Regions from separate parts of the Homo sapiens genome. Here region 2 is linked to region 1. Evidence: fine-mapped expression QTL. A gene starts in region 1. The other region holds a variant in brackets. All regions are shown on one strand. Distances are from middle to middle. Region 1 holds the start of MTCH1 (mitochondrial carrier 1). Region 2 has its middle 7.5 kb from the start of PI16.

What was found. PIP is the estimated chance that this variant, and not a neighbour inherited with it, causes the effect. A credible set is the group of variants that fine-mapping cannot tell apart.
Region 2: its variant is the best candidate, but not a certain one, in a credible set for the expression of MTCH1 in whole blood (INTERVAL, PIP 0.69).

Annotation. Positions count from the first base shown.
Region 1 is chr6:36,984,868-36,987,880 of GRCh38, reverse strand. It overlaps MTCH1 (mitochondrial carrier 1), which reads left to right and starts at 1,685. Exons shown (of 12, transcript NM_001271641.2): 1 at 1,685-2,028. The coding sequence starts at 1,708. RefSeq lists enhancers at 1,081-1,290, 1,409-2,131 and a silencer at 1,381-1,970.
Region 2 is chr6:36,945,883-36,948,638 of GRCh38, reverse strand. It overlaps a transcript of PI16 not described here. Among named protein-coding and RNA genes, the nearest start is that of PI16, 7.5 kb to the left of the region's middle. The variant C/TTTCTTC (reference allele first, on the strand shown) is at 1,062.

The DNA.
Region 1 (3,013 bases):
TACAGTTTGAAAGGGCCAAATACAGTATAGGCCCAAAGTTAGGTGACCATGTAAGGCAGAGTAAAAGGCTCAACGGTGAACAGCCAAGTTCAGAAAGAAAAACAGACAGTTGGAGAAAAATGGGGACGAAAAGCCCAAAGAAGGAAAAGGTTCCTGTGAGGAAGTTTCAGAAGGATGGGGAAGTAAATCATCCTCCCCTACCCCCACCCCCCACCCCCAAACTAAAACCTATCGCCTCTTCTGGGTAGAGAGTTAGTGTGGCACTAGGAACTTGACTTTGAGGTCCTTATTGAGAAAGCTAAATCAGAACCTAGGCAAAAGGAAGTCATTTAAGGTGCTCCTGGGGGATGTTTGATGAAAATTGTGTTTGATGGAGAAAACACAGCAAGTTGAAAGGGTTAGCAGGCTTTGCAAGTGATTTCACTAGGACAAGCCTGGGTTAGGGAGGCCAAGGTGAGGGAGAGAGGGAGTGTGGCATGCTTTGAACGTGGAAAGTACATAGTGTTCATTATCAGGAGTGGGAAGAGGGGAGGTAGCTTTTTAGGGGGTAAGGCAGGAAGGGAGTTAGAAAGGACAGACTGGGAAACCCGGACTAACAGTGGCAGGTGTCGATCTAAAGAAATTTCTCACAATGAACTGGCTATAGACTAAGTACAGACAAAGGGACCAGGTCTTCCATTGCTGTGTCCCTGCACACTCTAGGATCCGTTCAAACAGAAACTTTTATTGCGAACCCCCAAAACTAGCACGGTTCTGTTGTAGGTGTTGTTGCAGAGTGTCGGGCACGTTTACAAACAGGAACAGGGCACTTGCTGTCCTATCTTCCTCGCAGGGTTCTTGTGACGATTACACTTAAATCAACACGTATAAAGCATTTTAAAAAGTGCCTGTCACATAGTCCCTGCAATTTAAGGTCTAGTTGTGATTATTCACTTGTATTAACTAAGAATCAACTACAGGCGCCTAGCAGTGCCTGCATGTGCTCACACTGAGGCACTCACTAAAACCCTCAGGATCTAGTGAGGGAGACAGTCAAATACTTTAGAGCAAAACAAATTTTACAACCACGGACTCTGAGGAAGGCGTGCGAAGGCTCCACAGCTGGGGAGGGTGCCCACAGTCGCCGAGGGGACATCTGGATTTGCTCTGGTTGGGAGAGCATTCCTGGCAGAGGAGATGGAAAATGCGATCGGACAAAGAGGCTGGGACCGCGGAGGGGATCGGGCTCGGGGTCGGGGCTCGTCCTGCAGCAGGAGATTCAGCTCGCGCAGAGTTCCACGCAGGCCGCGGCGACTGGGATCTGGGCCGCAAAGGGGCGGGCAGAGAACTGCAGAGAAAACTCCCGAAGCCAGGGAGGTGGCTTGGAAGCGCCTCAGACCATATTGGGGACGTCTGGCAGCCAGAGGCGCCGAACCCCGCCCCCGCGTGCTCTGGGCATCCCGGGGGAGCGCCCCGGCCTGCGGCTGCCGCCACAGCTCCCGAGCCCGGGGCCCCGGCTGCCCGCCACCATTGACCCCCGGCCCGCAGCCCAGTGTCCTGCTAGGCCTCCAACCGGCCGGGGAGCCACATCCGGCGTGTCCCACCCGCCGCACCACGCTCCCGAGCTCCCCCGCGGCCTGGAGTGGTGCGCCCCGGCCCCGCCCCCTGACGCCGGTGAGGGGGCGTGGCCCCGTCACGTGACGGGGAGTGACCTCGCCGCCGGGCGCCATGGGAGCTTCGGACCCGGAAGTGGCGCCCTGGGCTCGCGGCGGTGCCGCGGGGATGGCGGGAGCCGGAGCTGGAGCCGGAGCTCGCGGCGGAGCGGCGGCGGGGGTCGAGGCTCGAGCTCGCGATCCACCGCCCGCGCACCGCGCACATCCTCGCCACCCTCGGCCTGCGGCTCAGCCCTCGGCCCGCAGGATGGATGGCGGGTCAGGGGGCCTGGGGTCTGGGGACAACGCCCCGACCACTGAGGCTCTTTTCGTGGCACTGGGCGCGGGCGTGACGGCGCTCAGCCATCCCCTGCTCTACGTGAAGCTGCTCATCCAGGTGGGGGACCAGAGGCGCCGTAGGGAGATGGGAGGCTGATGTGAAGGTGACAGGCCAGGATTTGGAGGATTGGGGCGGGCAGTCAATGGCGACGGATTTGGGGAGAGGGGTGGGGACGGCGGGTTTGGGGGGCCGAGTGGGTGGGATGGGAGGGAAGCCGTGAGGGAGTTGGGAACGCAGGGGTCACGGGTTTTAGGATACAGAAAGGAGACCAAGGGGTTAGAGTAATAACAGATACGGGAGAGGGTGGAAGGAACAAGCGATTTGGGGGAGTGCCAAGGAGGGAGCGATGGGCTGGAAAAACATATTTGGGAGATAAAGGAGTGGGGACGATGGACTTGGGATAGGGAAGGGAGCGAATTTGGGGCGAGGGAAGAAGCAATAGAATTGGGGGAGGGGCAAGAAGTTTGGGTGAAGAGATGGGGAGGAAGGTTGGGGGCCCAGGCAAAGTGTTTAGAGAATGAGGAGCACATAATTGGGGTAGAGGGGAACGGAGGCTCTGGATTTGATAGAGATGGATTTAAAACGTCTTGGGGTGGGGACAAAGTGGGCGCCAGGGCCAGAAATTTAGGAGGGAAAGAAGGACACCAGACTGGGGGTGGACAGAGGAGACGGAGGTCTTGGGTTGCATTGTGATTTAATTTGGTGGGAGAGTGCGAAGGCAAAGACTTTTGCAGGGGAATGCTATCGGTTTACCGGAGATGGGGGCTCTGGATTTGATGGCGACGACGGATTTGGTAGGAGGAGGGGACAGGGTGACGCGTATGGGGGGAGGGGAACAGATAGGGCCAGCATTGGGGGAGGGGAGTGGCAGCGATTTGTCTAGAGAGGGGAGCTAGGAGGAGGCTTTAAGCGGGGAAGGGGGATGACGCATTTGGAGGAGGAAATGGAAGTCATAGTTGGGGTCAGAGAGAGGAATCACAGTGCTTGTATCTGGGCAGATGAGGAGAAGGGGCACGGGAGTATTGAAATTGGGCAGAAGGGA
Region 2 (2,756 bases), 39 kb after region 1:
GGAAGGAGGAAGGAAGGAAAAAAAAAAAGAAAGAAACACAGAGCTGGGCGTGGTGGCTCAGGCTTGTAATCCCAGCACTTTGGAAGGTGGAGGTGGGCGATTGCTTGAGCCCAGAACTTTGAGACCAGCCTAGGCAACAAAGTGAGACCCTTTCTCTATTTCTAAAAACTTTTAAAACATTAAAATGAATAAAATAAAATAAAAACAGACTTCCCAAGGAATTAAAGTGCTGACCTGGCCTGGGAAGTGCTGGACTCAGGAATGGAAGGACACAGTTCTCAGATGCCCCCCGGGTGGAACCAGGCACTGGCACTACAGGTTGCCCTGGTGTGGTCATCTCTGTGGCCTCTGCCTCCAGTCATGCCCCTTCAATAGCAAGGAAAACAGCTCCGTAGATGCAGGACAATGGGCAGCATTCATTCACTCAACAAAGGCTTACAGAGCCTCTCATTGTGCCAGGCGCTGAGCTGGGTGAACAACAGCAGGAAACCAACCAGCAACCACAGGCAGTGTTGTGGATGAGAGTGTGGGGCTTACCGGCTGGGTGGCCTGGGGCAGGTGATTTCTCTGCTCACTGGCCTGTTTCCACATCTGTACACTGGGGCTTAGAACAGAACCTACCTCCTAGGATGGTTGTGAGCATTAAATGAGTTAGTACATGGGTAGGGCCTGTGATCATCCCTGGAACATAGTAAGTGCTCATTGAGTTAGCCAGTATTCACATACAGCAGGTCCTTGAATAACGTCATTTCATTCCATGTCTTTTTGTCATGACATTGGTAAGAGAAAAATTCGATTCCTGCAGGGGCCACTGTCTGCGTGGTGTTTGCATTCTCCCCACGTCTGCGTGGGTTTTCTCCCATGTCCCAAAGCTGTGCACGCTAGGCTCATTGGTGAGTCTGCATGGTCCCAGCACGAGTGAGTGTGGGTGTGTGAGCACCATGTCCTGTCCAGGGTAGGTTCCCACCTGGCATCCTGAGCTGCCAGGATGGGCTCCAGCCACCCACGACCCTGAACTGGAATAATTGGGTAAATAATTATCTTGTTTTTCTTTCTTTCTT[C/TTTCTTC]TTTCTTTCTCTTTCTTTCTTTTTTCTTTCTCTCTCTCTCTCTCTCTCTTTCTTTCTTTCTTTCGAGAGAGTGTCTCGCTCTGTCACCCAGGCTGGAGTGCAGTGGCACAATCTCAGCTCACTGCAACCGCCACCTCCTGGGTTCAAGTGATTCTTGTGCCTCAGCCTCCTGAGTAGCTGGATTACAGGTGCCCACCACCACAGTCAGCTAACTTTTGTATTTTTAGTAGAGATGAGGTTTCACCAAGATGGCCAGGCCGGTCTCGAACTCCTGACCTCAGGTGATCCACCCACCTGGGCCTTGCAAAGTGCTGGGATTACAGGCGTAAGCCAGTGCACCTGGCCTAATTATCTTGTTTTTCTTAATTTTTCTTAAATGTATGTATAGCTTACATTCATTTCAGTGTTTAATATTAGAAGTGTTTTGATCTTTAGAAGTTTGGTGATGTTTTTGTCACCAGAAATATGTCACAGGAATTCTATTCATTTATATCAATTAGCCTATGGTAAAATTGGTTTTGTTTCCCTTAAAGTTGCAGTTTCCAAGAGTCTATCAGCAACTTAAGTGAGAACTTACTGTATTTGTTATTATATATCTTCCACCTGTTATATATAACAGGTGGAAAAGTTTGCATAGCCTGAGGCTATAGCAAAGAAAAAAAATACAGCAACCTGACTTGGCTTTTACCCTGGGGAGGACTGCCTTGGCCTGGGAGAGCTCCTAGGTAGAAAGGGAGGACACACCCCTCTCTGAGGGACAGGGGCACTGGTTGAGTGTTGCCAGGATGTGGGCTGGGGAGGCCTCCTGGGAAGGGCATTTGGTTGGAAGCAGAGACACCTGGCTTGCCTGAGAGGGTTGGGTGAGATGGGAATGAAGACTGGGAGGCTGACCAGAGCCAGCCAGCGCATGTGGGGACCCAGGTGTGCAGACAGAGTCCACTCTGCGTGTGCACACTTATACGTGGTTCACAGAGCTTCTCCCATTTGAGTGACCTCACCCACTCCTCACAGGATAGCTCTCCAAGGTGAGTCTCACTGTCACCCCGCATAAGGAGACTGATGCTCAGAAAGGTAAGTGATTTCCCCAGTATAGGTCGGGGAGGGTCTGGAATAGTGACAAAGTGGTGGGACCAGAGCCAGGGACCTGCCACTAGGAAAAGAGGGCAGTTAAGGCAAGCACATGGAGGAGAGAGAGGAATGGAAGAGGTGAAGTTAGGGGAGGGTGAGAGGGAGAAAGAGAAGGCAGCATCAGAGTAGACGGTGTGTTTTATCCATAAACCCAGACTTGGGGAAAATAGATTTTCTTCTGTATTATTATTTCTGTATATTTTAAATCAAGTTTTATTTTGAACAGCAGTATAACTCCATAACAAAAAAATAAGCCAAAAAGGAAAAAAAAATAATTCCATCTCTGGCATTTGCTTCTCGTCTGAGCAGGTGGTCCACAGCCACTCAAAGTGTGGTCCACGGCCCGGTGCTGGTCTGCCAGAGATTCGCCACTGTTTTTCAGCACAACAGGCCCAGAAAATGAGAGTAAATGTTTAGAAACTCTTACAGCAATTGGACATGGTTGTTTTCTGCCTGTTGAATCTATGATTTAAAAGTTGGGCTTGTATTTCATGTATCTGCTTTTCATTTCATTTTTATTATTTATTTATTTTATTATTTTTTTTTGAGACCAAGTCTCGCTCTGTC